7 linked regions of the Homo sapiens genome follow. The protein of the gene in region 3 interacts with the protein of the main gene of each other region in a biochemical or structural test. Each region holds a gene or a part of one and is shown on either strand. Other genes may lie near its edges.

What was found.
Region 1: the proteins of CRB2 (region 3) and CARD11 interact in a test that uses a peptide from one of them, tested with the Homo sapiens proteins (one large-scale study listed by IntAct).
Region 2: the proteins of CRB2 (region 3) and TJP2 interact in a test that uses a peptide from one of them, tested with the Homo sapiens proteins (one large-scale study listed by IntAct).
Region 4: the proteins of CRB2 (region 3) and CASK interact in a test that uses a peptide from one of them, tested with the Homo sapiens proteins (one large-scale study listed by IntAct).
Region 5: the proteins of CRB2 (region 3) and DLG2 interact in a test that uses a peptide from one of them, tested with the Homo sapiens proteins (one large-scale study listed by IntAct).
Region 6: the proteins of CRB2 (region 3) and DLG1 interact in a test that uses a peptide from one of them, tested with the Homo sapiens proteins (one large-scale study listed by IntAct).
Region 7: the proteins of CRB2 (region 3) and SHANK1 interact in a test that uses a peptide from one of them, tested with the Homo sapiens proteins (one large-scale study listed by IntAct).

What each region holds. Positions count from the first base shown.
Region 1 is NC_000007.14:3,033,868-3,037,367, forward strand, and holds part of CARD11 (caspase recruitment domain-containing protein 11), read right to left. Parts: intron 1-3,500. UniProt on the Homo sapiens protein: Adapter protein that plays a key role in adaptive immune response by transducing the activation of NF-kappa-B downstream of T-cell receptor (TCR) and B-cell receptor (BCR) engagement.
Region 2 is NC_000009.12:69,180,777-69,184,276, forward strand, and holds part of TJP2 (tight junction protein 2), read left to right. Parts: intron 1-3,500. UniProt on the Homo sapiens protein: Plays a role in tight junctions and adherens junctions. Acts as a positive regulator of RANKL-induced osteoclast differentiation, potentially via mediating downstream transcriptional activity.
Region 3 is NC_000009.12:123,362,697-123,366,196, forward strand, and holds part of CRB2 (protein crumbs homolog 2 precursor), read left to right. Parts: intron 1-168; coding exon 169-492; intron 493-3,220; coding exon 3,221-3,416; intron 3,417-3,500. UniProt on the Homo sapiens protein: Apical polarity protein that plays a central role during the epithelial-to-mesenchymal transition (EMT) at gastrulation, when newly specified mesodermal cells move inside the embryo.
Region 4 is NC_000023.11:41,532,055-41,535,554, forward strand, and holds part of CASK (peripheral plasma membrane protein CASK), read right to left. Parts: intron 2,920-3,500; coding exon 2,839-2,919; intron 2,733-2,838; coding exon 2,652-2,732; intron 1-2,651. UniProt on the Homo sapiens protein: Multidomain scaffolding Mg(2+)-independent protein kinase that catalyzes the phosphotransfer from ATP to proteins such as NRXN1, and plays a role in synaptic transmembrane protein anchoring and ion channel trafficking.
Region 5 is NC_000011.10:85,620,845-85,624,344, forward strand, and holds part of DLG2 (disks large homolog 2), read right to left. Parts: intron 1-3,500. UniProt on the Homo sapiens protein: Required for perception of chronic pain through NMDA receptor signaling. Regulates surface expression of NMDA receptors in dorsal horn neurons of the spinal cord.
Region 6 is NC_000003.12:197,068,113-197,071,612, forward strand, and holds part of DLG1 (disks large homolog 1), read right to left. Parts: intron 1,149-3,500; coding exon 1,107-1,148; intron 426-1,106; coding exon of another isoform or gene 390-425; intron 1-389. UniProt on the Homo sapiens protein: Essential multidomain scaffolding protein required for normal development. Recruits channels, receptors and signaling molecules to discrete plasma membrane domains in polarized cells.
Region 7 is NC_000019.10:50,667,803-50,671,302, forward strand, and holds part of SHANK1 (SH3 and multiple ankyrin repeat domains protein 1), read right to left. Parts: intron 1,484-3,500; coding exon 1-1,483. UniProt on the Homo sapiens protein: Seems to be an adapter protein in the postsynaptic density (PSD) of excitatory synapses that interconnects receptors of the postsynaptic membrane including NMDA-type and metabotropic glutamate receptors via complexes with GKAP/PSD-95 and Homer, respectively, and the actin-based cytoskeleton.

The sequences.
Region 1 (3,500 bases), on a different chromosome or scaffold from region 3:
GACATAAGGTTGATCTTTAAAATATATTTTAAAATTACAGCTGGGCACGGTGGCTCATGCCTGTCATCCTAGCACTTTGGGAGGCTGAGGCGGGCGGATCCCCTGAGGTCAGGGGTTCGAGACCAGCCTGGCCAACATGGTGAAACCCTATCTCTACTAAAAATACAAAATTAGCTGGGCATGGTGGCACACACCTGTTATTCCAGCTACTCAGCAGGCTGAGGCAGGAGAATTGCCTGAACCCGCGAGGTGGAGGTTGCAGCGAGTTGAGATCACACTACTGCACTCCAGCCTGGGCAACAAGAGTGAGACTCTGTGTCAAAGAAAATAGAACTGTATATATATAATTACTAAATTATATATATAAATTATATAAATAGATATTATACAAATATAATTATACATATTATATACAATTATATATAAATATATAATTATACATATAATTACATATATAATTTTTTAAAAATAATATGTATATATGTACAAATTACTTAAGAAAGATACAGGGCTGGGCACGGTGGCTCACATCTGTAATCCCAGAACTTTGGGAGGCTGAGGCTGGAGGATAGTTTGAGTCTAGGAGTTCGAGACCAGCCTGGGCAACATAGCAAGACCCTCATCTCTACAAAAAATAAAAAAATTAGCCGGTCATGGTGTCACATGCCTGTAGTCGCAGCTACTTGGGAGGCTGAGGTGACAGGATTGCTTGAACCCAGGAGGCTGAGGCTGCAGTGAGCTATGATGGCACCATTGCACTCCAGCCTGGGCAACAGAGCAAGACAAAATTACAGCAAACTTCCACATAAAATGAGTGAGGAGACACGGTGACCCGTCCCCGGCGCACAGACGGCCTTCTGCTTGTACCGGAGCTGGGTCCTTTCCCCACTAGGTCATGCTCTTCGCCAGTCTAAGACCTCCCCGGGCTCAGAACACTCGGAACAGGGCCCGGTAAAAGGCCGTCCTTTAAGAAGGAGGAGAAACATTTTTCAAAGATCGAGAACTCTCCTACGAAGAGCCAAGAGCCTCTGCGTGCCTCAGGGACTCAAACGGGGATCACGGTGCCTGTTCACTGGCAAACAGGGACCCCCATGTCAGCTCGCAGAGGCTCTCCGCAGGGTATCAAGCTGCTTCTTGAAACGCGTCTGAGAATTGAAGTCAGGAGTCTTGGAAGGCGGTGTGAGGTATCGTTATTATTCTGCTGAACGTTTCCCCCGGAACCAACGATACCTGAATCCCTTTAAAAATAGGCCATTTCTTCTTAGAAGATTTCCACGAATCACATAATCCTTACGCAGAGGCAGGCAACGAAGCACTAATGTCAATAACGTTACAGTTTTACTTCACAGCAGCATTTATCCACTGACATAGCAATTTACTAAACCGCAGAAAACGCCGGCACAGGGCCTCTGCTTGCCCTTGGATTTTTTTTTTTTTTTTTTTTTTTTTTTGAGATGGAGTCTCACTCTGTCACCCAGGCTGGAGTGCAGCGGCGCGATCTCGGCTCACTGCAGCCTCCGCCTCCCGGGTTCACGCCACTCTCCTGCCTCAGCCTCCCGAGTAGCTGGGACTACAGGTGCCCACCACCACGCCTGGCTAATTTTTTTGTATTTTTAGTAGAGAGAGGGTTTCACCGTGTTAGCCAGGATGGTCTCGATCTCCTGACCTCTTGATCCGCCTGCCTCGGCCTCCCAAAGTGGTGGGATTACAGGCGTGAGCCACCGCGCCCAGCCCTCCTTGGATTTTTTAAATTTCAGAGACAAGGTCTCCTTCTGTCGCCCAGGCTGGAGTGCAGTGGTGCAATCACAGCTCACTGCAGCCTCTACCTCCTGAGCTCAAGTGATCCTCCCACCTCAGCCTCCTGAGGAGCTAGGCCCACAGGCATGACCACTACACCAGCTAACTTTTACATTTTTTGTAGAGATGGGGTCTTACTATGTTGCCCAGGCTGGTCTCAAACAACTAGGCTCAAGCCATCCTCCTGCCTCAGCCTCCCAAAGTGCTGGGATGATAGACATGAGCCACTGTGCCCAGGCTGCTTCCAGATTTTTTTTTTTAAAGGGCCATCACCACCAAGACACGTATAAGAATGTTCACAGTGGTTTCATCATAACAGCCCCAAACTGCAAGCAACAGAAACATTTATCAACGGTCAGGTGGATAAGTAAATTGTGGTAATTTTTTTTTTTTTTTTTTTGAGACAGGTCTCACTCTGTCACCCAGGCTGGAGTGCAGTGGTGCGATCTTGGCTCACTGCAACCTCTGCTTTCTTGGGCTCAAGCAATTCTCCAGCCTCAGCCTCCCGAGTAGCTGGGATTATAGGCGCAAGCCACCAATGCTTGGCTAATTTTTGAATTTTTGTAGAGACGGTTACATCCTGTTGCCCAGGCTGGTCTTGAACTCCTGAGCTCAAAGCAATCTGCCTGCCTTGGCCTCCCAAAGTGCTGGGATTACAGGCATGAGACACAGCGCCTGCCCCTATTGCGGTAAATTTATGCCATGAAATACTGTGTAGCAATGAAAAAGAAACATTGAATGTGACTCCGTCCACGTCAAGTTCAAGGACAGGGATGGTGATAGAGGTTGGAAGGGTCCTCCCTTAGGGGACAGGGGAGGGGTAACGACTGGGAGGGGATATGGCACTTCCCCAGAACCTAGAAAGGACCCAAATCTTGATCTGGGTGATTGGCTCCAGAAGGGCATGTGAAGGCCCGTCAAGCTGTTTGTACGCTTAAGACTGTACTGTGTGTGTGTTATACCTTAATTTTTAAAAATTATTATTATTATTATTACTGATGGGCAATCAGTTTTACCTTTCTTTTTTATTTTATTTTTAGAGATGGGGTCTTGTTCTACTGCCCAGGCTGGAGTACAGTAGTGCAATCCTAGCTCACTGCAGCCTCAAACTCCTGGGCTCAAGTGATCCTCCCATCTCAGCCTCTGGAGGAGCTGGGACTACTACAGGTGTGTGTCACCATGCCTGGCTAATTTTTTAAAGTTTTTTTGTAGAGGTGGGATCTCACTATGTTGCCCAGGCTGGTCTCGAACTCCTAGGCTGAAGTGATCCTTCCACCTGGGCTTCCCAAAGTGTTGGGATCACAGGTGAGAGGTGCCACGCCTGGCCTATCAAACTTTTTGATGTTTGCCAGTCTGACAGGTGGAAAACGCTATGTCCCTGTTGTATTACTTCACATGGATTTAATTACAAACGAAGCATGCTGACTGACCTGCTCATATTCCGTGTGTTTGTACCCTTTCACCATTTTTTCCATTGGTTGAATTCTCTAATTTTGGGGTCTGGACACTCCCACTGAGGGTCCAGTCCTGTGCCATCCACTGTGCCGAAGGTGGCCATACTCACTCCCAACTGCAGCCGCCTCCACCCCGCAAGGACAGAGTTGCTAGCTTCGACAGAGACCCTCTGGCTCACAAGGCCTAAAATATTTACTATTTGGAGCTTTCGAGAAAAAGTGTGCCAGTTCCCATGTCTCATTGGTTTA
Region 2 (3,500 bases), about 54 Mb from region 3:
TTTAGCAGCCTGGTTTCTGCGTTACCCTTCTGCAGTCTGGCTGAATCAATTGTGTTCTTGCCTGTGATTGGTGAGGATGCACATGCTAGTATTTATTCTAGCCCTTATCACTTCCCATCAGCCCTGAGCCCCTCCCTGGTCTGAGTCATCTTGGTAACCCCAGAAGCTAACAGAGCACCAACACATCCACTAAACGTTGGACTGACTTGATTTGGGGCAGGCTTGTTGTATAAGCTAGTAGGAATAAGAGACTAATTGAGAAATTAGGACAGTGGATTCCTGACATTTATATAGTGAGTAGATGATCGTTTGTTAGAATTGCGAATTTCATCCAGAGAATTTTGTCCAAAAAAAATTATAGAATTTCATCTAGACCATTTTTGTAATGGCATGGAAGCAGCATTAGCTGCACCACTGATTAGCTGGGTGGCTTTTGCTGTCTTGTGACTCTAGTTTGCAATTTCTTTTTTTTTTTTTTTTTTTTTTTTTTGAGGTGGAGTCTAGCCCTATCGCTGAGGCTGGAGTGCAATGGCCCGATCTCAGCTCACTGCAACGTCTGCCTCCTAGGTTCAAGCGATTCTCCTGCCTCAGCCTCCCAAGTAGCTGGGATTACAGGCACACGCCACCACACCCTGCTAATTTTTTGTATCTTTGGTAGAGACGGGGCTTCACCATGTTGGCCAGGCTGGTCTCGAACTCCTGAGCTCGTGATCCGCCTGCCTTGGCCTCCCGAAGTGCTGGGATTATAGGCATGAGCCACCTCGCCTGGCCTAGTTCTCAGTTTCTTTATCAGAAAATGAGTAGTTACAGTTGATCATCTCAAAGTCTTTTGTGCTTAAGATTCTGAAGGTTTTGAAGTTTGAGTATAAAGCCTAGAGAACATTCTAAATTATTTCCATTGGTTCTTCTCATCTTAAAATGTTTTTGTGCTCCTTAAACTACGTTTGTGTTTGCTTGCTTGCTTTCTTTTTTTTTTAGAGATCCAGTGGATTATCTCTGAAAAGCATTTTTTAAAAAGACAGAGTCCAAGAGTGGCTGGTAGTTGTTTTGCTCATAAAGTGATGGAAAGATCTATTATTCAGTTGCAGCTTAAATTATGTACCAGCACCACGTGTGCTGGATTCTCTTCCTTACTTTGCAGCTTAAGCCAGCAACTGCAACCATCTTGCAGAGCTTCTTGAGAATCCTTCTTCCTCTTCCTCTTCCTCTCCACCCCCATGGACTTCTCCCCGGGCCTCATTGCCTGTGACATACGCTTGGAAGGAGGGGCAGGCCTGCAGCTGGGAGCCCTTTCTGATTTGTTCTTCACAAATGTGTTGAAGATGAGCCTACTGGTCACTGCTGCAAAAAACCACATTGTTCACTGGTGTAAAATCACTGCTGTCATCTGAGTTTCAGCATAACTTCAGGCATGTTGGAGTTTTTCAACGTCACCTCAGGCAGAGCACTTTGCCTTCCTTGGGCTGGTCTGTTTAGTGTCTGGGTGAGTTTTAAGAGAGGAGAGACATTGTGGCATCTTAGACACTCACTGAAATTTTCCAGAAATGGAGCTGGAAACATTTGTGCGTTTCCTTCTGGTGTTATTGTTAAAGCCTAAAAACAAGGGCAAGTGGCAACACATTGAAATGAAGAAGCCCCAAGTTTGCAACACATTGAAAGGAAGAGGCCCCAAGTTCGTTTTGAGCCTAAATTGAATTTTAATCAAAGGTCTGAGAGAAATATTTAGTCTACTTATACTATTTAAGTGCACAGTTTGGCAGATGACTTTGGGCAGTGAAGGATCTGGAAGAGGCAGGAAAGGTAGACTCAATCTGCCAGACTTAGAGCTAAAAAAATTTGCCTGGTATGTTTCCATGAAGAAAATTTTCCTGTAGAAGCAGTGGCACGACCTCTGTTACAAGTCTGCTTATTGATAATGAAGCTTTTTCTGTGTTATCAATTTCGTTGAATTTATATGTATGTATATACATATACACACACACAAATCTCAAGTAGAGAGCTTGATGAATTTCTTTTTTTTTTTTTTTTTGAGATGGAGTTTCACTCTTGTTGCCCAGGCTGAAGTGCAGTGGTGCCATCTCGGCTCACCACAACCTGTGCCCTCCAGGTTCAAGCAATTCTCCGGCCTCAGCCTCCCGAGTAGTTGGGACTACAGGTGCGCACCACCATGCCCGGCTAATTTTGTATTTTTTTTTTTTTTAGTAGAGACAAGGTTTCTTCATGTTGGTCAGGCTGATCTCGAACTCCTGATCTCGGGTGATCCACCTGCCTCAGCCTCCCAAAGTGCTGGAATTACAGGCGTGAGCCATTGTGCCTGGCCAGGGAATTTTATTTATTGTGGTAAAGTACACATAACATTAAGTGTACCATTTTAACCATTTTAAAGTATAAAATTCAATGGCATTTAATACACTCACAGTATTTTGTAAACACCATCACTCTCTAGTTCCAGAGGTAGGTGAATTTTTACATGAATGTATTCACCTGCATGATTACCACCTAGATTAAAAACTAGAATTTTCCATCACTCTGGAAGGTTCTCTCTTGCCACTTTTCCAATGATTACCACACCTACCTAAAAGAGAACTTCTCTTCTGACTTCTCTCACCGTGGAACACTTTTGCTTGAACTTGGGAGAGGACCCATATATAAATAAAATCAACATTTTATGTCTGTCATCTTTCACTCAACCTAACCTCTGTGAAATTCATCCGTATTTGTTGCGTGAGATTCAGTAGTTCTTTTTTGCCACTGAGTCGTATTCCATTTATATGCATCTGTCACATTTGGCTTATCTCTTCTGTTGATAGGTATTTGGGTTATTTTCAGTGTTTTTGCTATTATGAATAAAGCTGCCATGAAAAGCACCTACACATTGCCTTGTGGACATGTACACCCATTTCTCTTGTGTGAATTCCTAGGACCATAGGTTAGGGATTTTTTAAAAAACTTATTTTAGATTAAAAAAAATATTTTTTGAGACAGTCTCACTCTGTCACCCAGGCTGGAGTGCAGTGGCATGATCTCAGCTCATTGCGACCTGTGCCTCCCAGGTTCAAGTGATTCTCCTGCTTCAGCCTCCCAAGTAGCTGGGATTACAGGCATGCGCCACTACACCTAGCTAATTTTTGTATTTTTAGTAGAGACAGGTTTCTCTTCAACTCCTGAGTTCAAGCAGTCTGCCCACCTTGGCCTCCCAAAATGCTGGGATTATAAATGCGAGCCACCACGCCCAGCCAGGTTACAGATGTTTAACTTTGATTCTTTACCTCTGAAGTCAAATAAACCTGGGTGTGAATTCTTTTGTCCTGCCACTTGCTTGCTTGACTTTGAGCAATTTACCTTTTTCTCATGTTCAGTTTTCTCAGTTGTAAAATAGGCCTACCCTATCAGTCATGGTTCAGTCAAGAAGACATGTCATTCTAGCTATTTCAAGGAGAAGGGGATTCAATACAGAGTATTAGTTGCCTTCAGGACAAAGAAAAGGCGAGATGCGCAAA
Region 3 (3,500 bases):
GTGTGCAGCTTACTGGGACCTGGCTTGCAGACCCCTGGCCCTCTGTCCATACTGTGCATGCAGAGACCCACGTTGCTTTTGGGGTCTGGGGTGGGCCTGAGAGGGTGGGGAGGAGATTGTCCTTGTAACCTCTGCCCACCCTGCCCAGCCAGTTTCTTCTTTCTACAGGGACGGTGCCTTCAGAGCCCCCCAGTGCCTGTGCCTCAGACCCGTGCGCTCCAGGGACCGAGTGCCAGGCTACCGAGAGTGGTGGCTATACCTGTGGGCCCATGGAGCCCCGGGGCTGTGCCACCCAGCCATGCCACCACGGCGCTCTGTGTGTGCCCCAGGGTCCAGATCCCACCGGCTTCCGCTGCTACTGCGTGCCGGGTTTCCAGGGCCCACGCTGCGAGCTGGACATCGATGAGTGTGCATCCCGGCCGTGCCACCATGGGGCCACCTGCCGCAACCTGGCCGATCGCTACGAGTGCCATTGCCCCCTTGGCTATGCAGGTAACAGCCTGGGCCGCCCTGGGAGGAGGTCTGTAATGCAGATCGCATCAGCTGCTCAGAGTGTAAGCATCATGGCTTCAGCTTTGCCTTTCGTGTAGGGACGCCCCCAGGCATCCGGGCAGCTCTAGGGTATATCCACTTGGTCTGACTACAGAACTGATGCCTGGCAGCTCTGGGTGAGAGTATGTATGTGCGGGTGCTGGCGTGGTGTGTGGCGCATCTCAGGCACTCGGTAAATGTGATTTCAGTCCAGCCTAGAGTTCAGTTTGGCTGCGGGGGTGGAATACCCCTCATTCATCTCTGGCAGTGTGAACCTGCCTGGCGTGACTTTAGTGAGGATGCCCAGATAGTCTTTCTAGCACTTCAGGCCTGTGCCAAGCTGTCATGTAGACACTGTCTACACGACAGTCACCATCAGCTCATTTGAACACTCCTGATGTGGTCTGGAGTGCAATGTGGACCCCTGGCCTCTGGGTCTCCCCCAGAGTTCTAGCATAGACATACAAGGTCTCGTTCAAACTGTAGTGTTGACATACCCCAGGGATCGCTGCTGTCTGGAGTGGGATAATATATACGTAAGTGCTCAGAAAAGTGACTGGCACTAAGGGTACCTTCTCCAGAGTGTGGCCCGTCCCAGGCCCACCCATGGTCTGAGCCGAGAACATCCTGGAGCGGCTTCCCAGAGAGGCCTGAAGTCGGGAAGGAGGGCGCAGCTGGGGACAGAAGGGGCGCAGTCTGGGAGCGAAGCTGAGTCCAGGGCAGAGTCTGAGTCTGCAGTGTAGATGCTCTGGATCCTACTTCAATCCTGAATTCAGACAACTGTACTCTGAGGGCAGAGGGCAGTTTGAAGTCACTTCAGAGCAAGAGGTACAGATTGGGGGGCTGGGTTCCAGGGCAGGGGGCCTACAGCGAAGAGATGGCAGCTGATGAAGAGAGATTTGGGAAGCTGGTTCCATGCATCTTTCTCATCGTTCCAGTGTCTCAGCGTCTGGGTGTATTAGTGTACATGCCAGTGCAGGTCACATTCGTCCATGTGTCTCCTAGTTCCAAGTTCTGTTTTGCATCTGTAAAGATCTGCCAGTACCTGGGGGTGTCTGCAGTCTGAGTGCATGTGTGGGCAGTGGGTTGTTCGGGCAGTGGGTTGTGTGGGCAGTGGGTTGTGCGGGCAGTGGGTTGTGCGGGCAGTGGGTTGTGCATCCGGATGTGTAGCACTCACACACTTCGGGTGACTCTTCCTGGGTAAGCTGTGGATGTGAGTGGGGGCAGCATCTGCCGTGACTCATTCTCTCCTCTTTCCATTCCAAGCCGGGTGGGGGAGTTTGGGATTTCCAGACAAGGCCTGGCTCCCCCTGGCACAGAGGGTGGGAGTGGGGATGGGGAGGGAGGAGGGAAGGGTCATGGGAAGGTGGGGCCATGTTTTGTGCTCAATGAACTGAGAAGGGGGAGGGTTCCAGCTGGAGTCAGCTGGGCCTCTGGCCCCCGCTTGACCAAACCCACTTAGGGGGCAGGGCCTGCTGGAGTCTACAGTGACACGTGAGTCCAGGATGATCTCAGGCAGCGTATCTGAAACCCTGGGACTCCCCATCTCCCTTCCTCTTCACCATCACCCTGGGAGAGCCACTCAGCTGTCGTGATTCGCCCAGGACTGCGAGGGTTCTGGGGACTTGGTACTTTCAGTTCTAAAACCAGGACAGTGCAGGGACACTGGGAGGAGTGATTACCCTACTCAAGCATCTCCTGCCTCTCTGGGATCTGAAAGCCACCAGAGTGGACCTTCTAAAAAGTAGGTAGGGCCAGGTGTGGTGGCTCACGCCTGTAATCCCAGCACTTCGGGAGGCTGAGGTGGGTGGATCACTTGAGGCCAGGAGTTGGAGACCAACCTGGCCAACATGGTGAAACGCCTTTTCTACAAAAAAATACAAAAATTAGCCGGGTGAGGTGGCATGCACCTGTAATCCCAGCTACTCTGCAATCTGAGGCACAAGAATCACTTGAACCCAGTGGGCAGAGATTGCAGTGGGCTAAGATTGCAGCACTGCACTCCAGCCTGGGCGACAGAGTGAGACTCTGTCTCAAAAAAATAAAAAACAAAAACAAACCCAAAACAACTAACTAAAATGTAGGTGGGACCAAGTCACTTACCTGTCTGAAACTTTCAGGATGGACCCAGAGGTTACCTGGTCCCCAAGGCACTGACACCTCCCACCCGACTCACCTCCGCCACCCTCTCCCTTGCTTCCAACCCTCCAATAACCCCGCCTAGGGCATCATGGCCCTGCCCCTAGTGGAACTTGCCTCTTGCTGCAGTCTCTTTGGAATCCAACTGCTGCCCACAGTCCCCTATCTGAATCCTTCAAAAGCCTCTTCTTCTAGGAAGCCTTCCCTGAACAGAGCAGACCCCGGCTATTGCTTTCCCAAGACCCAACCCCTTTCCTTGTTGAACTTGGCAACATCACCTAGCTCATTTAGGTAATTACTGGCTGAATCACCCCCCACCATGTCCTGGCCTAGACTGCTGTGAGCCCCATGAAGGCAGGGCTGTCTGTCTCGTTTCTCTCCCTGCGGTTGCTGGCATGACCCGTCCCCCACCCCCCAACCACCACCACCACCATCCGGCTCTGAATGAATGAATCCACGAGTCTCTAACTCTGGAGCAGGCCTGGCGCGACCTCTTCCGCCCTGCTCTGGGTGTCCATCCTGCACCCTGTGTGTCCCCTGCCCTGTCCAGGCGTGACCTGCGAGATGGAGGTGGACGAGTGCGCCTCAGCGCCCTGCCTGCACGGGGGCTCGTGCCTGGACGGCGTGGGCTCCTTCCGCTGTGTGTGCGCGCCAGGCTACGGGGGCACCCGTTGCCAGCTGGACCTCGACGAGTGCCAGAGCCAGCCGTGCGCACATGGGGGCACGTGCCACGACCTGGTCAACGGGTGAGCGAGCGGCGGGGCAGGCGGCAGGGGCGCCGGGTGCCCGAGGGCGGGGAGGCCAGGCGCGGGGCAGAAGGGGCAGGCGCG
Region 4 (3,500 bases), on a different chromosome or scaffold from region 3:
CCTCCTGAGCAGCTGGGATTATAGGCGTGTACCACCATGCCCAGCTATTTTTTGTATTTCCAACAGAGACGGGGTTTCACCATGTTGGCCAGACTGGTCTCAAACTCCTGACCTCAGGTGATCTGCCCGCCTCAGTCTCCCAAAGTGCTGGGATTACAGGTGTGAGCCACTGCACCTGGCCACCTACTGTCTGTTTTTGTAAACAAAGTTTTACTGGAACACAGCCATGTGCTTTTGTTTACATATTGCCTATGGTTGTTTTCATGAGACAACAGCAGAGCTAAGTGCTTGTGATAGACTGTATGGCCTTAAAGCCTCAAATGTGTACTATCTGGTCCTTTACAGAAAAGGCTTGCCCACCCCTCACCTAAGTGAGTGTAACTGAAGTATATGCCAATAAGCTCTAGTTCTGTGGATACTAATAGGACCAGTATCCTGCAAAACACACTTTAGGAAATGTTTTTCTAGATGAGCCAGGAACACTGGTTTTAATATTCTCTCTCCCTACCCCCCTTTCTTTTCTCCCTTCCTTCCCTTTTTTTCCCTCTCTCTCTCAATTTCTTTGCTTCCTTCTTTCTTTGAGAAAGAACAAATTTATGCTACTCTCTTCTGTATACATGAGCCTAAACTAATGGGGAATCCCCCTTTCCTGCTAGCCTGTTTGTTAGAACATAAAGTGCTCGTGGTCATCAAAATGTGGACATTTTAAGAGAAGCCCTTTCTCTAGGCACATCAAAAGCTGAAGAACCGGCGTTACTATTTATTTATTTATTGAGACAGGGTCTCACTCTGTTGCCCAGGCTGGAGTGCAGTAGCAAGATCTCAGCTCACTGCAACTTCCAGCTCCCGGGTTCCAAGCGATTTTCATGCCTCAGCCACCCTAATAGCTGGGACTACAGGTGTGTGCCACCATGCCCGGCTAACTTTTGTATTTTTAGTAGAGATGGGGTTTCACCACATTGGCCAGGCTGGTCTCAAACTCCTGGTCTCATGTGATCCACCCATCTCGGCCTCCCAAAGTGCTGGGATTATAGGTGTGAGCCACCGCGCCCAGCCAAGAACTTACATAACATATTGATGTTGTACTATCTTCAGTCATCTCAGTAGTTAGATATATGTTATATACACATACAGGGTCAAATATTTCAAAGACTAGTCATGATTGACATCATCAAAGGTAAGTTTTAAAACCAAACTAGTTAACTGGCCATTTAATAACATGGAAGTTCAGTTGTTACGTGGTTAAGAAGAAGCTAAATGTTAGCTAAGCTTGCTGTACTCATGATCTAGACATAAGGAGAATTAAAAGAACACTTCAAAGTGTTTTACTAGAAAACCCCAGTAGTGCCAAATGAGACACTATTGGATACATTTCTTTTCTTGTGTAAATCAGACAAGGTTTTGGGATGAAGGTTTTCTCATGAAGCCTCCTGGCTCTCTGAGGTGTACAGATAACTGTAAGTGGTATTGACATTGCTTCAGGAAGGCATGTGAAGGCCCTATAGAATGGAGCCAATCTTCACATTTTCTCCTGTTGCTCTTAAAAAATAATTTTCCTTTAGCTCTTCCAACCCTGAGCTGCTAGAAAGCTTCTGGGGTTAAAATTTTATTTATTTTTTTTTGAGACGGAGTTTCACTCTTGTTGCCCAGGCTGGAGTGCAATGGCACGATCTCGGCTCACCACAACCTCCACCTCCGGATTCAACTGATTCTCCTGCTTCAGCCTGCTGAGTAGCTGGGATTACAGGCATGCACCACTATGCCTAGCTAATTTTGTATTTTTAGTAGAGACGGGGTTTCTCCATGTTGGTCAGGCTGGTCTCAAACTCCCGACCTCAGGTGATTCGCCCACCTCAGCCTCCCAAAGTGCTGGAATTACAGGCATGAGCCACCGCGCCTGGCCTAAAATTTTAAACTTTAGAATAATGATGATAATAATGAAATGATAGTGGTAGATAGCTTCTACTTATCCACCATCTGCTAAGTGCTTCATACACATGATCTCAAATCCTCTCTGCAATCCTGAATTACTTCATTTTACAATTGAGAAAATGAAGAGGGCAAGAGGTTAAGAATAAGATACGGAAAATAAGGAGAATTAAAAATCTTACAGATTTGAAAATCTTTACAGAAACAACTGTTAGCATATTGATTGGGTTTAAAAAGTGGTAAGAAATCAACAATTTAAATATTAACTAAGGGAAAAAAATTGTCATATCAGAAACTGTACAACTATGAAAACTTATTTTTCTGAAGAATAATTCATCTAGGTAATGTGTATGACATATTGTTAGAAAAATTGTTACAAACAGAATGGATAAAACTAATTTTATTTAAAACACACACACACACACACACACACACACACACACACACACACTTTATACACATATCTGTACTAAGACAAGCCTAGAAGGGTATACAACAGAGAAGCCTAGAAGGGTATACAACAAAATATTTATAGCACTTATTATAGGGAAAGAGGGGTTGGGATTACTGTTAACTCATTTTCCTCCTTGTTCTTTTTTTGATTTTACAAATTTCCTACAATGAACAGTTATACCTTATGTAATCAGAAAAAAATACATAAATTATAGAGTTAAAAAAGTGATAGGAAAAATATAATGAAAAGAGATTGAGACATTGCTTACGTGGAATAGGGTACGCAAACCGGTCTGGGTGCTTTGTGATGAGAGTGTTTTTTATGTGTCTTCTCCCAACACCATGTGCGCCTATGTCATTTAGAAAAAAAGAATGTTAAAACTGACAACTCTTAATAATGTTCACAAAATGTTTTGAAAGTGAGAATAAGCAACTCACTTACACAATCAAACTTACCTAATAAGACTAGTGTTTTCCTCTTGAATGCTGGCAGTTTTACTACTTCTTCATATGTGACAAGATCTAATTGATCAAACACTAAAACGCAAAGATTTAGAAGAAAGGTAAATTTGTAGAATGACTATTTCATGTACATAAATTATAATTTTACTGGCAAAACTACAGTTATATTAAAACCATGTCTTAAAAATATGAATCCAACTTATGATATATGGCTTACATGTAATTTAAGTCATATAGCATCTAGGGAGAAATTTTCATTTTTAAGCCCATGAAAATGCTCTTTAGAACCAGGGGCATCCAAAGATGCTGAACACATGCATTAAAATGTCCAAATCTAAAAGATACTACATATCTTTTCATGTAGTATCCAACAAATCATATGAATTAATTTGAAACCACATGCTGTTCATATTTTTCCAATTCTAAGAAGTCAGCAATACTAAAAAGAAAAAGTCTACAGACAGTGACCAACATGAATATAGCATGAATGCAACTAAAGTTAACCAGGAGAGGGGCCAGCTAGATCATTTCTAGAGATGGATGAGAAATGCATGGACAGCTGGTCTTTAACTTCATGGTTCTTTCTTTCAACAGAGTTGATGAAGGTGGCATGCTAGATTCTAAGGCAAGTTCTGTAACTATTGCACAAGCTTATC
Region 5 (3,500 bases), on a different chromosome or scaffold from region 3:
AAGAAGCTACAGCAAGTTATCAAGAAGATCTAGCTGAGATAATTGATGAAAATGGCTAAACAACAGATTTTCAATTCAGACAAAATAGCCTTACATCAGAAGAAAATGCTAGAGAGAAATCAATGCCTCATTTCAAAGTTTCAAAGGACAGGCTGACGCTTCTTAGAGGCTAATGGGTGAATGTAGCTGGTGACTTTACGTTGAAGCCAATGCTCATTTACCCTTCCAAAAATCCTAGGGTCTTTAAGAATTATGCTAAATCTATTCTGTCCATGCTCTAAAAGTAGGTCAACAAAAGCCTGGGTGACAGCACATCCGTTTACAGCATGGTTTACTGAATATTTTAAGCTCACTGTTGAGAACTACTACTCAGAAAAAAAAAAAAAAGATTCCTTTCCAAATATTACTACTCATTGACAATGCACCTAGTCACCCAAGAGCTCCAATGAACATATACAAGGAGATTAAAGTTGTTTTCATGCCTGCTAATAGTACATCCATTCTGCAGGCCACAGATGAAGGAGTAACTTCAACTTTCAAGCCTTATTATTTAAGAAATAAATTTTGTAAGACTATATCTGCCACAGTGATTCCCTGATAGATCTGGCCAAAGTAAATTGAAAACCTCCTGGAAAGAACTCATCATTCTATATGCCATTAAGAACATTCTTGATTCACAGGAGGAGGTCAAAATATCAACATTAACGGGAGTTTGGAAGACATTCATTCCAACTTTCATGGATGACTTTGAGGGATTCAAGTCTTCAGTGGAAGAAGTAACTTCAGATGGAATGGAAATAGCAAGAGATCTAGAACTAGAAGTGAAGCCTGAAGATGTGACTGAATTGCTGCAATCTCATGATAAAACTGGAATGAATGAGGAGTTGCTTCTTATGGATGAGCAAAGAAAGTGGTTTCTTCAGATGAAATCTACTTCCAGTGAAGATGTTGTGAACATTGTTTGAAATGGCAACAAAGGGTTTAGAATATTACATACACTTAGTTGATAAAGCAGCAGCAGGGTTTGAGAAAACCAATTCCAATTTTGAAAGAAGTTGTACTGTGGGTAAAATGCTGTCAAACAGCATCTCATGCTACAGAGAAATCTCTCATAAAATAAAGAGTCAATTGATGTGGCAAACTTCATTGTTGTCCTATTTTAACAAATTGCCTTAGACATCCCAACCTTCAGCAATCATCACCCTGATCAGTTAGCAGCCATCAACAACGAAGCAAGATCTTCCACCAGCAAAAAGATTACTACTCGCTAAAGGCTCATATGATCATTAGCATTTTTTAGTTGTAAAGCATTTTTACTTAAAGTACGTACATTGTTTTTAGACATAATACGATCGCAAACCTAATGGACTATAGTATAGTATATACTGTACTGTATACAACAAATATTTTGGTTTCCCAGTGCATATATACCGTAGTATACAATATATTGTATATATGCATCAGAAAACCAGAATATTTGTGTAGCTTGCTTCATTGTGATAATAGGCCTTATTTCAGTGGTCTGGAACCTAACCCGCAATATCTCTGAGATATACCTGTACATATTCCCCCTCTTATTGATTCTGAAAAAAAAATGATTTTAAGAACTTAAGAAAAACTAGAGATGAAAACAGAGTATACCCGATAACAAAAAGCAAATGTAAATTAGTAAGATACTATAAAACAAGAAGTGGAGCCATAATGTGCAGGAAACAACAAAAGAAGAAAACTTTGAATAGGGAAAAAATAAGCAGGAGAGTCATAAGGTCCTCTTCCCCAGAGGAAAAAAAAAAAAAAGAAATGACACTTTTATGAAGTATACAGTCAACCAAAAGCAAAGAGATAATTTAAGAACTGTGAGTCCAGGAAACTGTAATCTCAGTTTCAAGGGTGCCTATGAGATATATGGCAATATCATGTCTTAAGATTCTAAGGCCAGGCGCACTGGCTCATGCCTGTAATCCCAGCACTTTGGGAGGCCAAGGTGGGTGGATAACGAGGTCAGGAGTTCGAGATCAGCCTGGCCAACATGGTGAAACCCTGTTTCTACTAAAAATACAAAAATTAGCCAGGTGTGGTGGCACGCACCTGTAATCCCAGCTACTCAGAAAGCTGAGTCAAGAGAATTGCACGAACCCCGGAGGCGGAGGTTCCAGTGAGCCGAGATCACACTACTGCACTCCCACCTGGGCTACAGAGCAAGACTCTGTCTCCCAAAAAAAAAAAAAAAGATTCCAATTATATAACATTCTTCAGCTTCCTTTGAAAGCTATAATGTCAAAACATATACATATAAAAAAGATAGGACTTAGCTTTCAGTACATGATAAAAATGTTTATATATATATTATATCACTGAGAACCACTGCAAAAAAATAATTCAAAGGAAATAAAGGGTCATATAAATAAATAATTTCAGACAAACTTCTACACCAGTTTAAAAGAAGCTCCGAAGACAATAGGACAATTTTTTTTTTTTTGAGACGAAGTCTCTCTCTGTCGCCAAGTTGGAGTGCAGCGGCACAGTCTTACCTCACTGCAACCTCCACCTCCTGGGTTCAAGCAATTCTCCTGCGTCAGCCTCCCAAGTAGCTGGGATTACAGGCACGCACCACTATGCCCAGCTAATTTTTGTATTTTTAGTAGAGATGGGGTTTCACCACGTTGGCCAGGCTGGTCTTGAACTCCTGACCTCATGATCCGCCCGCCTCGGCCTCCCAAAGTGCTGGGATTACAGGCGTGAGCCACCGCGCCTGGCAATAGGACAATTTTTTAAAACACTGAAATGAAATGAACATTTATCTCAAAGTAATAAAGGCATTGATTTCTTCCACATATTTAATGACAATGAGAACAAAAAGCCATTCAAAAAAGAAGCTGCATTGTACTAGAAAATTCTGTTAAAGCATATTTTTATCTTTAAAACAGCAACTTTCTGCTGTAAAACATGGCAAATGACGTACCTATCATTAACTTTTATTTCTTATGTTAACACAGTAGGAAATCATATCAGATCAATTCAAGAAGACTTGTTAAAACAGACCCTTATAACACACTATGGTCTTGCATCATATCAGAGAATACTAATACAACTTATCCTGAATTGGTCCTAAATTTTCACAAATTAAAATATGTCCAAGATTGTCCCAAGGGCTCACCTGGGAGCAAATAAAGTTACTACTATAGATAAGAAAATCTTGAATGAAAAGCAACTGCTGAGGAAAAAAAACCTTCTATGAGGAAACAGAAGAGTCTTCTGTTGATAAAACTGAGATCTGTAAAAATGCGAAGAGACTAGAGTGAGAGAAGTAGAAAGTAATGTCATAAAGCAAACGAGCAGTTAATATGGGGTTTGAGGCACAGTAGTTTCAGCTTATCCAAGGGCAGTCCAGAATGGCACCTAGAAATGGGCTTAGTGAGATGTCACACCCATTCCCAATTCCCACCATGGTTGCATGGTATCAGTAAAAGAATCTCCTCTCTCTTTGACAAAAATATACT
Region 6 (3,500 bases), on a different chromosome or scaffold from region 3:
AAGTATTTCTTTGTTTTCAATTTTATTATCAAAGTACATAAGACCAATATTTTATAAGCTGTTTTTTAAAGTACTGGATGTGAAACATGGCTTACATACTAGCAAACACATGCAATTTGAATATTTCACACCTTAATAATTCATGCAAATGGTGAGAGACAGTATATACTTTCATTACCTCTTTTTAGCCTAGAAAGCCACTCAACTACCCTATAGTGGGTTCTGGTTATAATTAATAAAATGCTGAAATACAGGAAATCATTTCCACACCAAAAAAAAAATCATTAAGTAACTATTGTGTAGAAAAATAATCAACCAAATGAATGACGGTTAAAAGTATATACTGTCAACATGAAAAAGTATTAGGGACTGATATTAACAGGATGGACCTTTTGAGCAGCCATACTCATCTGTAATCAAGATTACTTTCATATTAGACAGCAGTAAAAAAAGAAAGTTAGAAAAGTAATTTTAATTTTTAAGGTGCTACAACTGATATTATGTACCCTCCCCTTCTCCCATGCCCAAGTCTGTTTTAAAACATCACATGCTTGTGCAGTTCACTTAATAAAACCAAGAATGTAATATAAAACAGCAAAAGAAAAATTAGTATTATTTTTCAGGTGATCATTGAAAATGTTTCCTTATTTCTTCCGTTCACCAAGTGCTGGTGATAAACAATGACATGACCCAGATCAGTATTGGTGACAAAGAATAAAAATGGAAATAAAGCTAATGATAATTTAGCATTACTGAAAAATATTATTTTAGTGCTCATGTTAAAACCAATTACTAAACAGAAGGTCAAAATACAAGTTTTCCCCCATTTAACTAGATATTTACTTCTTACAAAAAATACATATACATATACATATGTATCATGTACACAAATAATATTTTTATTTTATTAAAATTTTATAAATTAACCTCTACATATATAGTATGATTTTATTTTTCAAGTACAGAATTTTACTTGTCTCTCCCTGATTTTAAAATAACGATCATATAACTTCAGGTTTTTATAACATATCACTCAGAATCCCTCCACCCCTGCAGAGGATGTATTACTCGAGATTACAAAAGAACAAGTAACTTAAAACACTTACGGTAACTACTTTCACTATCGCTGGCATTAGAAGTTACATGCTCTGAAATTGCAGGACAATGAAAAAAAATAAAACAGTGTCATGAGTTTAAAAAGCAAATAATCAAAATGAAATGTTGAGATATAAGCCATATATAACAAAATAATTTTTTAAAAGCATTTTCTTTTTCTTTGAAACGTTTAAGTTTTTCAAATAATAAATATATATTAGCAAAGGAAAACTCCTGTAATTAAGGACAATGCCTTATTTTTGTACAACACAGTTTATGAACAAATCTATTATAAATAGCAAGTAGAATATGACAAAAAGGGCTAAGTGACCCTGAATTAGTCCAAATGTAGACATAAAACTCAAAGGAGAAAATACTGTTGGCACTATTTCAGTTTTTGAAACAGCGTTAACTGGCAAAGGGGACAAACTATATTTAAACAAATAGATGCCCATTTTAATGACGGGATGTCTTTGTAATTAAAAATAAATAGATGATCTTATTTTCAATCCAGCTTTGCTCCTGTTTCTGAAGATGAAAATCCATGTTTCTGAGATCATATAGATAAAGGATTGTAAAGGTCATAAATTCAGATGTCTCAGCTGGAAGGGAAGGCACTGATGGTGGCAATTGCATTTTAAAACCAACTAATATTAGAAGTCATAAATTCAGATGTCTCAGCTGGAAGGGAAGGCACCGATGGTGGCAATTGCATTTTAAAACCAACTAATATTTCTTAGAAACTCTGCTTTGATAAGACTGGCACTGGCTGGCTTTTGCAAAACATAAAAAAGACAATGAGAACAAACACACCCAGCCAGAAACTGCCTGGCCCTCCTTAAAAGTGACTCCATTTCACGACTTTATTGTTTGGTAAAACCATAGGCACTCTTCTCATCCATGTAAATGTCATCTCAAGTTTTCTCTCAATAAATATCTCCCTTCAATTAAACAAAGACTAATACTTTTATTTTTAAAAAATAAAAATAAAACTTTCAATGAGACAGGGAAATCTGAATTTTTATTTTAACTTTTTTTTTTTTTTTTAATTAAAGGGACAGGGCCTCACTCTGTTGCTCAGGTGGGAGTGAGGTGGTATGACTATAGCTCACTGCAGCCTCGCCCTCCTCTCCTGGGCTTCTGTGATCCTCCCATCTTAGCCCAGAGTGGCTGGGACTACAGGTATGTACCACCATGCCCTGCTAAAATTTTGTTTTTTTTTTTTAATAAAAGAGACAAGTCTCAACTATGTTGCCCACACTGGTCTCAAACTCCTGGCCTCAAGGGATCCTCCCATCTCAGCTTCCCAAAGTGCTGGGATTACAGGTGTGAATCACCACACCCAGCTGGAAATTTCATTTTTTTTTTTTTTTTTTTTTTGAGATAGTCTCCCTTTGTTGCCCAGGCTGGAGTGCAGTGGCACGATCTCAGCTCACTGCAACCTCTGCCTCCTAGGTTTAAGCGATTCTATTCTTGTGTCTCAGACACCTGACTACCTGGCACTGCAGGTATATAGCACCATGCCCAACTAATTTTTCTATTTTTAGTAGAGACTGGTTTCACCATGTTGGCCAGGCTGATATTGAACCTCTGAGCTCACGTGATCTGTCTGCCTTGGCCTCCCAAAGTGCTGGGATTACAGGTGTGAGCCACCGCACCTGGCCAAATGGTAGGTTTTTTAAAAGCTCATATTAAAATATTTCTTTCCATGTCACCACATGGGCTTGACAGCAATAATTTAAAATTGGTGTATAATATTCTATTAGATTGATACATTATTTACCTCGCTATTTATTAGATATTTTTATTTGCTTTAAACTGTTTTTCACAAGTATCAACAATTATGAATGTCTTCATTTATATATACCTTTTAACTTTCTGTCCTATTTCCTTAAATTTCATACCCAGAAACACGCCACATTAAAAAAAGAGTTATTCTGTTTACATTAGTATTGGTATTACCCTCTGCAATCTCTAGTTTGTAAACTAAAGAAAAATTAGTTATTGCAATGGGGTGAAGGGAGGGGAGTGTAAGTGGGAGTACAGAAGAAACAGAATTGGCAAATGTTCAGTTGACAATTATGAAAGCTGGATAAACAAATACCTGCAGGGTTTATTTTTACTACTTTTCTACTATTGAATATATCTGATATTTATATAATAAAAAGTTTAAGTTACCAAAATCTCTTCACTGTCTTTTTTTTTTTTTTTTGAGATTTCTCCTACTCACCTCAAACCCTCTAAGACTGCCAAAAGCTACGCCACAATCAAATTCTGCAGGTTCTTTCAAATATCATTTCACTTAGCTCTTCTACAATAAAGCCTCACTACTCAAAGTATGGTCCTTAGAATAGCGTCATCATAATTGTTTGGAATGTTATTAGAAAAATAAAATGTTTTTCTTC
Region 7 (3,500 bases), on a different chromosome or scaffold from region 3:
TCGTAGCGGGGCGATGGGGGCCTGGGAGGCGGCTGGGGGGCCCCGCCGCCCTCCGAGGACTCCTTCAGCGCTCGCTCGCGGGCGGCCAGGGCCAGCCCCAGCGGGGAGGCGGGATCCAGGGCCTTGCCGGTCAGCGGGTGCACCAGGGGTCGCGGGGGCAGGAAGCTGGTGAAGGCGCTGCTGCCCCCGCCACCCCCGTAGGCTCGGCTACCGGCCCCGTAGCCGCCGTAGCCCGCGCCGCTGCCCGCAGACTCCAGTCGGAGGTAGGGCTCGGCGGAGAACATGCCCTCGTCGATGGATTTGGAGTGGCGCAGCCGCGGGCCCGGGGCCGCCCCTGTGCCCAGCCCGCCGTCCCCGCCGTCCTCGTCCCCCGCGTCGGTGGACAGGAACAGCGTGGAGCGCCGGCGCGCCTCATTCTGCCAGCCCCCCTCCCTCCGGGCCGCCCCCACCAGGGCGGCCCCGAACTGGCTCGTGAAGTCCAGCGTGGCCGGGCCGCTGGGCGAGGCGGGGGTGGGCACGGGCGAGGGGGACGGGGGCACGGGTGACATGGCCGGGGCGGGGCTGGGCGAGGAGCCGCCGCCGCCGCCGCCTCCCGTGGGCTCCGGCTGGGTGGGGGGCTCCGCCTCGGTGCTGCTGCCCTGGCTGCTGCGGCCGCTGCTACTGGTGGACGGGGCCTTGATGATGATGGTGGGGATGGGGATGGAGTTCTTCTCCGAGGGCGCGGCCACGGCGGGCGGCGGCTGCGGGGAGGCCGGGGACGTGGGCGACGGCGCGGGCGGGAGGCCGCCGCCCTTCTGGGGCTCGCCTTCCACCTTGGTCTGCTTGACCAGCGGGCCCTTGCGGCCGCGGCCCGAGCGGGCGGGCACGTACATGGCTGCGCTGGCCGCCCGCGGGGGCAGCTGGAAATAGCGTAGAGCCGGGCCCTGGGAGGAGCCGCCGCCCCCGCCCGCGCTGCCGTGGTGCGATGGGGACGGGGCCCCCGGGGTCGGGCTGGGCCCGCCGCCCCTCCAGCCTCGCAGGCTGGGCTGGGGCCCCAGAGCCAGGCGGGGTGGAGGGTCGTCGGGAGAGCCGCCTGTCTCCATCTCGGGAGGATGAGGGGGGTGGGCGTGGTGGTGGTGGGGCTGAGGGGGCGGGGCGTGGTGGTGGTGGTGGTGGGGCGGGTGGTGGTGGGCCGGGGGCAGGGGCCCACTGTGGTACAGGCTCTTCTCGCGGCTCCCCACGCGAGTGTCGGGAGGGGAGGGCCCGTCAAAGGATGCAGGGGAGGAGGCGGGGAGGGGGCCACCAGAGCCAGGGTTGAAGGGCCCTCCCCGAGGGGAGGGGGTGAGGCGCCCTGAGGAGGAGGGGACTGGAGGTGTGCTGTAGGGAGGCTCCGGTGGGGACGTGGTGGGTGGCGGGGGAATGTCCTCCGAACCAGGCACAGACAGGCTGCGGCTGAATTTCATGGCTGGGGGTGCTAGGTAAGGTCTGTCATCTTCTGCCGCACCTGGGGAGATACAGAGGCTCAAGGAGGGGGACCCTGGCGGGGAGGGTCTCCCTGCTCCACTATCCCATAGAACCGCAACAATACTAATGACAAGAATGGCACCCCGTATATGCCAGGAACTTCACGTGGACTCGCCCAGCTCTTCCCTATTTGAGGTAAACCCAAATCTGCTTCATACAGAGGTACAGGTTGTGCACTGCACAACTGCAAACCGCAAGGAAGGTGAGGAAACTGAAATTCAGCAGAACTTCCTCCCCACGCCAGGAGGGGGCGCCATTTTCTAATTCCGTTCAAAGGCTCAGTGAACGGTTTGGGGCCAGCAAAAGTGGCTGGAGCTGGGAAGGGATAGTCCCCTCGTGTTTATGCATAGATGCGTGTTTCTTTTCACGTATATGCGGGAAAGAAATGCAACCAGCACATCAAAGCTGTGATTCTACAGAGAGAACCACTTATGATGAGGCTAAAGTTTAAAAGGGATTGGATCTATAAAAAAAAAAATCAGGTAAACGATGCGAGCCAGGTGGACCCCACACTCAGTGGGAGTGTAAGACTCACACTGGTGGACTTTGAACGCCAGGAGTTGGGGAAAGCTGAATCCAATCAGGGAAAAACAACTCCAGGAGGCGTGCAGGAGTTAAGTCTTTGCTTACTTCACTGCCAAGGCTCGGTCTTTGAACCTCTTCTCACCTCTGACTACTCCCTCTCAACTAGTGACCAGCTTCATTCACTGCCTTTCTGCTGTCGACGCCCACGTTTATGCCTGGGGCCCCATCCTCCGCCCTGAGCTCTGGGCCCCTATATTCAAATACCCACACCCAGCTGGCTGTCTCACGGGCATCTCAGACTCCAAACGCTCCAACCCAAGCTCCTGATCTCCTCACCAACAGACTCCTCCCAGCCCACGGTCCCTCCCCACCACCGCAGCAAACAGCAGCTCTGTCCTTTCAGGTGCTAAGACTGAAAACCTTGCAGCCACTCTTAGCTTTCTTCCTCAAGTCACCCACATCCAATCCACCAGCAAATCCTGTTGTTTCAAAACATATCCGGAATCCAATCCCTTCTCACCCCTCCAGAGTCAACACCCTGGGCCAGCCACTATCATTTCCTATCTGGATAGCAATAGCTGTCACCTCCTCTTTGGTCCCCCGGCTTCCCAGCTCATCCCCTTCAATCTAGTCCCTTCACAGCAGCCAGAGGGTTTCTGTTAAAACCGAAGTCAGCTCATGTCCCTCCTCTGCTTAGAGCCCTGCCATTCACTCACCTCACTCAGGGCAAAGGTTCAAGTCCTCACCATGACTCCCCAGACCCTGCAGGATCGGGACCCTGTCCCCCCACTGCCCTCATGTCCAGTGCTCACTTGGCCCCTGCTACACAGGCCTCCTCCCTGTTCTGTAAACGCACCAGACTCAGCCCGACCTCAGGACCTTTGCAGAGGTAGTTCGCTCTGCCTGGAATGCCTCAACCCCAGGGAGCCTCACGATTCCCCACTTCATCTCTAGGTGTTTTTTTTTCTTTTCTTTTTTTTTGAGACAGAGTCTCGCTCTGTCGCCCAGGCTGGAGTGCAATGGTGCGATCTTTGCTCACTGCAACCTCTGCCTCTCGGGTTCAAGCTATTCTCCTGCCTCAGCCTCCTGAGTAGCTGGGATTACAGGCACATGCCACCACGCTTGGCTAATTTTTGTATTTTTAGTAGAAATGGGGTTTCATCATGTTGGTCAGGCTGGTCTTGAACTCCTGACCTTGTGATCCGCCTGCCTCGGCCTCCCAAAGTGCTGGGATTACACGTGTGAGCCACTGTGCCTGGCCCATCTATAGGTTTTAGCTCAAACCTGCACCCTGCCCCCTACCCAGCACTCCCTATCTCTCTTACCTTACTCCATTATTTTTTTTCACTCTTTTTTTTTTTTTTTTTTTTTGAGACAGAGGGTTGCTCTGTCGCCCAGGCTGGAGTGCAGTGGCACGTTCTCGGCTCACTGCAAGCTCTGCCTTCCGGGTTCACGCCATTCTCCTGCCTCAG